Homo sapiens: one gene and its partner. The protein of the gene in region 1 purifies or fractionates together with the protein of each later gene. This does not show direct contact. Each region holds a gene or a part of one and is shown in the gene's direction. Other genes may lie near its edges.

Evidence for each region. The genes of interacting proteins can lie anywhere in the genome.
Region 2: the proteins of TIGD4 (region 1) and KIFBP purify together in Homo sapiens (affinity purification with mass spectrometry; 3 studies listed by BioGRID and IntAct, with this or other methods). This does not show direct contact.

The regions. Positions count from the first base shown.
Region 1 is NC_000004.12:152,772,450-152,777,805, reverse strand, and holds part of TIGD4 (tigger transposable element-derived protein 4), read left to right. Parts: intron 1-5,356.
Region 2 is NC_000010.11:68,995,303-68,998,802, forward strand, and holds part of KIFBP (KIF-binding protein), read left to right. Parts: intron 1-3,500. UniProt on the Homo sapiens protein: Activator of KIF1B plus-end-directed microtubule motor activity. Required for organization of axonal microtubules, and axonal outgrowth and maintenance during peripheral and central nervous system development.

The DNA.
Region 1 (5,356 bases):
CCAGCGTTCTTTGGATTGGGGAATATTTTTGGTACTAACTGAAAAACATCATTTTAAGCCTGGCCCTGCTTAGAGGAGACTTGTTTTCTCTTCCCTCTCTCCCTCTCTTCCTTTTTTCCCTCCTTCCTCTTTTTCTTTCCTCCTTTCCTTCTTGTCTCCCTCCCTTCTCCTTCCTTCCTTCTTCCTCTTTTTCTTTCCTCCTTCCCTCCCTCCCTCCCTTCCTTCCTTTTTTCCTTTCTCCCCTCCTTCCTTCCTTTTTTTCTTCCTTCCTTCCTCCCTCCCTCCCTTCTTTTCTTCCTTTCTTCCTTTGCCCTAAAACTTGGGGGACCCTGCCTGCTCATTTTGTTTAGAATAGAAGATTACTACTTTTCTCTGAATTGTCATTTATTTTTAGAGAGGTAAGAAAAAAGGGAATAGCTGCCTTCCATATATACTTATGACATGGAGATTATCTACTCATTTAACTTTGCACTGCTATTGGCTGTTTATTTGGCTTTTGAAAAATCAGGTGCTATTTATTCATTGGGCTTGTGGGGAACTCTAGTAGCCCTGAATGGCATTTGTGGCATACTCAATGAAGTCTAATTCTTTATCCTGGCATTAAAGGCTTACCAAGATCTGGCCTCAATCTTGCAAATGAGCACTCTCTTATATACCTGAAGGAAAAGTGCTAATTTAGCCAACTAATAGAGATAGGTATAAATACCAATATAGACATAGATATGAAACTTTAGTTGCAAAGAAATGTTTAATATGCTTCAAAGTGCATATTTCCCTCTTCCATGCTTTATTGTCTATTCTTATCAGCAGAAATGTTTTCCTATTTTTCCTTACCTGTGATGTACCTATCCATCCTTTACAGTTGAGTTCAGATGCTACTTCTGTCATGAACCCATTATTTATCCTCCCTGTGAGAATTCATTTTTCCCTGTTTTTGGATCTTACAGCCTTTGATTTGAGCCCCCATTTCAGTCTGCTTTATACTACTGTCTTGCATGTTTTCCCATGATAAATAAGATGGTTTTTGGGAAACTGAACTTTGGACTTACTTGATTCTCTTATAACACCAGGAAATTGGCCAATTCTAGTTGAGTTATGGAAATATGTTGTCTGCTGCATACCAGGCAAGTTCAAGAATACCAGCAACTCCTGCTACTTAGGGTAATGGTACAAGTAGGATTAAGTGGATATAGTTGCTATCTATCTGTAGAAGACAATGAGTGAGTGCTGTCTTAAGTTTGGAAAGTAGTTGATTCTCTGCAGAGGGGTATAAACTACTGATGAAAGGAGAGTGACTCATTACTCCTAGAGATTCTGAATGGGAAGAATGCCAGCTTTATGTTTTCTGATACTGATTTTTTTTTTAATAACTTGGTGCAAAAGTAGAACATTATTCTAAGATGACTGTTGTGGAAGAAAAAAAAGGTAGAACATTAGAGTTGTAAAAATGTTTTTAACTATAAAGAGGAAAAAACTGAACTTATTTATAATTCATTTACCTAGAGAGAACATTCAACATTTTGGTCAATGTATTTTTTTTCTTTATATCTATGTAGATATATATTTCTTCATTTATTTAACAAATTGCTACTGACACCCTATGGTTTGCTGGAAGTGAGCTGTGTAGGAATAACCATGAGCCTCTGCTCTGATGTAATTTTTAGTGTATGTTGTATTTGTTGACATATAATTTTATATTTTGCTTTTTTCACTTAATGTATCATGGAATTTTTTCATATCATTAAATATTCTCTTTGTGTGGCACAATAGTATTTCAGCATGTAGATATTTTGTAATTTATTGAATGAATCCTTTTTGTTGCATATTTTCAATTTTGTCTGTAATTATATAGCAATGCAGGGAATAGTCCCGTGTAGCAGGTGGAATTCTAAGATGAACTCCAGTGACACTTACCTTGTATAATTCCCTCTCCCTGTGAACATGATGGGATATTACTTCCATGATTATGTTATGTTACTTGCAAGGGAATTTTGGAGATATAATTAAGGTTGCTAATCAATTGACTCTGAATTAATCAAAAGGGCAATATTCTAGGTAGACCTAACCTAATCAAGTGAGCACTTTAAGAACAGAGAGTTTTCTCCTGCTTGTGGCAGTAGAGGAAGTCAGAGAGATTCAAAGTGTGAAAGAGACTCTACAGGAGGAATGTTCTCCATTGCTGAAATGACAATTTCCCACAGACAAGGACCTGAGGGAAGCCTCTAGAAGCTGAGAGTAGTCCCTGCCAACAGCCAACCAAAAAAACTAGGGACCATAGTCCTACAACAGCAAGGAACTGAATTCTGCAAACAATCTGATTGCGCCTGGAAGCAAATTCTTCCCCAGAGCCTCCAGATAAGAGCCCAGCTTCTGACCAACATCTTGATTTCTACCTTGTGAGACCCTAAACAGAGGACCCAGTTGAGCCCACCTGGACTTAAGATCTACAGAACTGTGAGATAATAAATGGGTGTTGTTTTAAGGCATTGAGTTTGTGGTAATTTGTTGCATTAGCAGTAGAAAACTAATACATTTGTAAGAAATTATTTTTACATCTATAATTATTCTTTTGGGATAAAATCCTTGATATAGGCCGGGCATGGTGGCTCACACCTGTAATCCCAGCACTTTGGGAGGCCAAGGTGAACGGATCACGAAGTCAGAAGATGGAGACCATCCTGACTAACACGGTGAATCCCCGTCTCTACTAAAAATACAAAAAATTAGCCAGACGTGGTGGCACATGCCTGTAGTCACAGCTACTTGGGAGGCTGAGGCAGGAGAATTGCTTGAACCCAGGAGGCAGATGTTGCAGTTAGCTGAGATTGCACCACTGCACTCTAGCCTGGGTGACAAAGCGATACTCCCTCTTAAAAAAAAAAAAAAAATCCTTGATATAGACTTGCTAGATAAAACGTTATACACAGTTTTAAGGTTTGTATATCATATTGCAAATTTGCCCTCCATAAGCGTATTGTAACAATTTATGTGCCTCCTAACAACCTGTTACCTCACCCCAGCAAACGCTAGATACTGACATTCTGATAGGCAAAAACAAAAATGTTTTTTTTAAAAGAAGATTATGTTTTTCTTATTAATAGTAGGATTGACCATTGTTTTCTTTATTTGAAATTAATTTGGTGAGTCTTTTTTGATGATTTGCATATTCTTATTTTCTGATTAGCTTAACCATTGACATAGAGAAAATATTCCCTAACATGTAGAATAGCATTTCTCTGCTGTAATATTTTCAAGAGGGAGAATGATTAATGAGCTTGAAAGGATGACTATTCTGAGAAATATTAGCTGCTGCCATTACTCCTTGCAAAAGAATATCCCAGATGTTATACTGTTGGAGTTTGGAGAATGTCAGCTTCATTGATCAGGTAGTATTGATGCCTTATTCTTTTCTAGGGAAAAAGTCTAATTTGTCTGTTTGGCATTAGAAATGTGATTATTTTTAGGAATAAAGATGTATCTTATCATGGAAAATTGTAGCTTTGACTAATGTTAACTCAGGGGAAAAACCTAATCTTCCTAAATAAAGTTATCACATTTTCAATTTTCTCAAGATAATGAGCAATCTCTGATAGTATATATTATGTCACTTTAACCAGGATGGGAAAAGAAGAAATTCAAGTTACTTTTTCTATAATCCTTGCTGTTTGACATGATAGATTTTATTTCTGATAAATGAGATAAGGCAGGAGGGAGAGAGGAAGGAAGGGAGGGAGGAAGAGAGGGAGGGATTGGGAGAGGGAGGAAGGAAGGGAAGGAAGGAAAGAAAAAAGGGAAGGAAAGAAAAGAGGAAGGAAAGAAGGAAGGACGAAGTTGAGAGATTCTCATAGTAAATTTGGTTGGTTTTGTCTTTGAAAAATTAGTTTTTGCTATGTCAATTTCTGAAGGTTGGTATCTTCCTAATAAGAGCAAGAATTTTATTTTTATTTTGAAATAATTGCATATTTATAGGAAATTGTAGGAAAATATAAGAAGAGATCCCATATACAAGCAAGATTTTTTTAATGTTAGTTGTATGGTCAAATCTTATTACTTAGGTTTGCCCTCGCTGACAGATAGAGTTGCTATTTGTGTTCACAGAATTCATAATGGCCTATTCTTCCATGGAGGCCTAATGTTGCTTTTTTTTTTTTTTTTTTTTTTTTAAGGCATTGGAAATGCTGGCTTAGGTTGGTGCTGGGAGCATAGAATCCGTAACTATGGTCACAGGAGGTCCCACCAGTGTGATTCAAAGATACTGTAATATAGTTGTAAAGAATGCTGACTTGACATTTAGAAGCCTGGATTCTGGACTGCTCTTAACCACATTGTAACTGTGGGACCAATGAAATCCAGTTTTACCTTCCTCCTTAGTTATTTGGAATACAGGTAGTAAAACCATTTAAAAACTAAAACCCTGGGCTATCATTATTTTTAAGACTTTTTTCGAAATGACACTTTTTTAAAAAAAGAATTCCTTTACTGGTTGTAATTCCTATGATAAAAATTCCTCCTTTGAGTTGGACAACAAGGGCAGAAGAATTTTGGCAAAAGTTTTGTCAAAAGATTTTGTGCAAAAAGTTGTGCATCACCTGGGAAACCAGGAAGCCCAGCAAGAAGAATGGAGTGCCCACACTCACACAGAAGTAACACTGCTCATCAAATTAGCTTGTTATTATCTTGGCTGCCCCACAGATTCTGATAAGGGAGGTGCTGACTTGGGAAAGTAGAGGTGAGCCTATCTGGGGCCATGTGACTGTTCTCATGGCTTAAGAAAAGCCCTACTTTAGGCCGGGCACAGTGGCTCACGCCTGTAATCCTAGCACTTTGGGAGGCTGGAGGCAGCCGAGGCGGGCAGATCATGAGGTCAAGAGATTGAGACCATCCTGGCCAACATGTTGAAATCCCGTCTCTACTAAAAATACAAAAATTAGCTGGACGTGGTGGCGTGTGCCTGTAGTCCCAGCTACTTGGGAGGCTGAGGCAGGAGAATCGCATGAACCTGGGAGGCAGAGGTTGCAGTGAGCCGAGATTGTGCCACTGTATACCAGCCTGGGCGACAGAGTGAGACTCCATCTCAAAAGAAAAAAAAAAAAGAAAAGCCCTACTTTGAGTATAGATTTAAGGTGGGATTCTTGCTTCTGTTTGCAAGTAGGATTTTATAGTTTTCCAAATTGTAGATTCACACAGCCAAAAGACATGAGAGAGATAATGATGATGAGATCATCACCACCTATTTGTTGAGCACTTTCTTAAAGTACTAAATACTGTGCTACGTGCTTTACACTCTTTCATTGAATCTTTTTGAATGCACAATAATGAGATAGGTGCTGTAGTTACTCCCATTTTACAGATAAGG
Region 2 (3,500 bases), on another chromosome or scaffold:
TGTAGAATTTTATATAAATGAAATCATATTGTATATACTCTTGTTTTGGTATACCTTTTTTCCACTCAACATCGTTATTTCATTCTGTATCTACTGAGCTGATCGTGTCTTTTCATTTTCAGTCTGTTAATAGGGTGGATTACATTGATTTTTGTAAATGTTAAACTAATCTTGCATTCCTGGGATAAACTCCATTTGGTCGTAGCGTATTCTTTTTATATATTGTTGAACTGAATTCACTAAATTTTTGTTTAAAATCTTTGCATCTGTGTTCATGAAGGATTTCAGTCTGTAGTTTTCTTGTTATATCTTTGTTTAATATGAGATGGGAAGTGTACTGTCCTTTTCTCTTTTCTGGAAGTGTTTGTGTAGTGTTGGTGTTAAACTTCATTACATGTTTGGCAGAATTTACCAGTAATACTTTTTTAGCTGTTTTTATTTTATATTTTACTTTTCTCCTTACCTAGTTTGATAGTGGCAAGGATATGATATGTGAAAGATGCAAGACCTTCCATTGTAGCTTTTCTACCCTTAGTAGGATTTATATTGTATTTAAAGAATAATTCACATAAAGGCTGGGCACGGTACCTCATGGCTGTAATCCCAGCACTTTGGGAGGCCAAGGCGGGTGGATCACTTGAGGTCAGGAGTTTGAGATCAGCCTGGCCAACATGATGAAACCCCATCTCTACTAAAAATACAAAAATTAGCCAGGTGTGGTGGCAGGTGCCTGTAATCCCAATTGCTCAGGAGGCTGAGGCACAAGAATCGCTAGAACCCGGGAGGCGGAGGTTGCAGTGAGCCAAGATCATGTCACAGCACTCCAGACTGGGCAACAGAGCAAGACTCTATCTCAAAAAAAAAAAATGGTAATAATAATTCAAATAAAATGTCAATAGTGATTATCTCTGTGGAGTCAAGCTTTAAAAAAAAAATCCAAAACACCAAACCTAATTTAATTTTAAAAATAAAGGTGGGCCGGGTGTGGTGGCTGACGCCTGTAATCCCAGCATTTTGGGAGGCTGAGGTGGGTGGATCACCTAAGGTCAGGAGTTCAAGACAAGCCTGGCCAACATGGCAAAACCCCGTCTCTACTAAAAATACAAAAATTAGCTGGGCGTGATGTTGGGCGCTTGCAATCCCAGCTACTCTGGAAGCTGAGGCAGGAGAATAGCTTGAACCTGGGAGGTAGAGGTTGCAGTGAGTTGAGATTGTGCCACTGCACTCCAGCCTGGGCGACAAGAGGGAAACTCTCAAAAAAATAAATAGGCTGGGCATGGTGGCTAACACCTGTAATCCCAGCACTTTGGGAGGCTGAGGTAGGTGGATTGCCTGAGGTCAGCAGTTCGAGACCAGCCTGGCCAACATGGTGAAACCCCGTCTCTATTAAAAATACAAAAATTAGCCGGGCATGGTGGCGCATGTCTGTAATCCCAGTTACCCAGGAGGCTGAGGCAGGAGAATCGCTTGAACCCAGGAGGTGGAGGTTGCAGTGAGCCAAGATCGTGCCACTGCACTCCAGCCTGGGCAACAGAGTGAGAGACTGTCTCAAAAAATAAAATAAAATAAAAAATATTTTGGCCAGGCGCAGTGGCTCATGCCTGTAATCCCAAGACTTTGGGAGGCTGAGACTTGAGTCCAGGAGTTTGAGACCAGCCTGGACAACATAGTGAGACTTTGTCTCTATTTGAAGAAAAATAAAATAAAAGTGATTTGATCATTCCACTGGAACATAGCACTTTGGTCTTCCGGCTTTACAAAATATATCCATTGTATATATATTTTTTTAAGTGACTTGATCAGTCCTCAGTATCCAGGACTATAGGTCATACTGATAATGTTTTGAGATTGGATAGTTCTCTCCTCTATGTTACTTATGAGGTCCTTTCCAGGACCTCATTAAACTACATAAGTAATAGAGGCTTGACATAATAGAGGACCTTATTAAACCTCATAAGTAATAGAGACTTGAAGGGTGATATGGTTTGGCTCTGTGTCCCCACCCAAATCTCATGTTGAATTGTGATCTTCAGTCTTGGAGGAGAAGCCTGGTGGGAGGTGACTGGATCATGGGGGTGGATTTCGTCTTGCTGTTCTCATGAGATCTGGTTGTTTGAAAGTGTATAGCACTTCCTTCTTTGCTCTCTCCCCTTCCTACTCCAGCCATGTAGAATGTTTGGGCTTCCCCTTCACCTTTTGCCGTGATTGTAAGTTTCCCGAGGCCTCCCCAGCCATACCTCCTGTACAGCCTGTGGAACTGTGACCCAATTAAACCTCTTTTCTTTATAAAGTATCTAGTCTCAGGTAGTTCTTTATAGCAATATGAGAATGAACTAATAGAAAGGGCTCTGCCTTCCTAATAACTTACTGATTGTAATTTCCTGATCTTAGACCTACAGGCCACCTTTTCCTTACTCTTTAGTTCAACTTATTTCTCCTTTGATGATAGACAGTGCTTGGGAAACTCCTTTGACCATGACACCAGTAAGCCCCACTGCAGCACACTGCAACTAACCTAGGTAGTCTAGAGACTCACCTAGTACCAGAAACTGGTTAGTCACACTCTATTTTTGGGACAGGGTTGTGTTTGGCCTGCTATATTCAGGGTAGACTGTGCCACAGAAAGCAACAATTCTTGGTATGTGACAAATCTGAAACCATGAAACCATGATTGTAAGTTTCCCGAGGCCTCCCCAGCCATACCTCCTGTACAGCCTGTGGAACTGTGAGCCAATTAAACTTCTTTTCTTTATAAAGTATCTAGTCTCAGGTAGTTCTTTATAGCAATATGAGAATGGACTAATACAAAGGGCTCTGCCTTCCTAATAACTTACTGATTGGTCATGTTACATGTTAGTCAGGCTGGTCTTGAACTCCTGACCCCGTGACCTGCCCGCTTCAGCCTCCCAAAGTGCTGGGATTACAGGCGTGAGCCATTGCACCCAGCCCAAAAGATTTTTAAAACAAAATGTGTGATATAGTAATATATATGCTTCTTTATTAACACATTATATAATGTGTCTAATATCTATGATGATTGTAAAGTAATGATGAGCATAAATGATATTTTGAGATATCTGCAAACTAGCATAATAGAAAGGTTTTTTTTTTTCATTTCTATTGTTCACAAAGTCCCAGGTCCTATAATACTGCTACAATTTATTTCCTGTGTTCATAATGAAAAGAAATGCTGTATTTTAATAGGAGATTGGTGAAAAGAAATTTGTATTTTTTTCCCTGTCCAAATTCATGGACTCTGAATTCTCTTTATGGATGCCTTGGGGATCCTTAGACTTGAGGTTAAGAATTTCTGCATTAAAAACTTCCTTCCCTAGTGGCAAAAGATGGTAGAAGGCCAGCCTCAGAAGTATCCTTGTGCCTGAAGGACTGACTATTCCAAGGGAAGTGAGGTAGACTAACCCCACTACATACATACATACATACATACATATATGTATATATATATATATTTTTTTTTTTTTTTTTTTTTTGAGACAGAG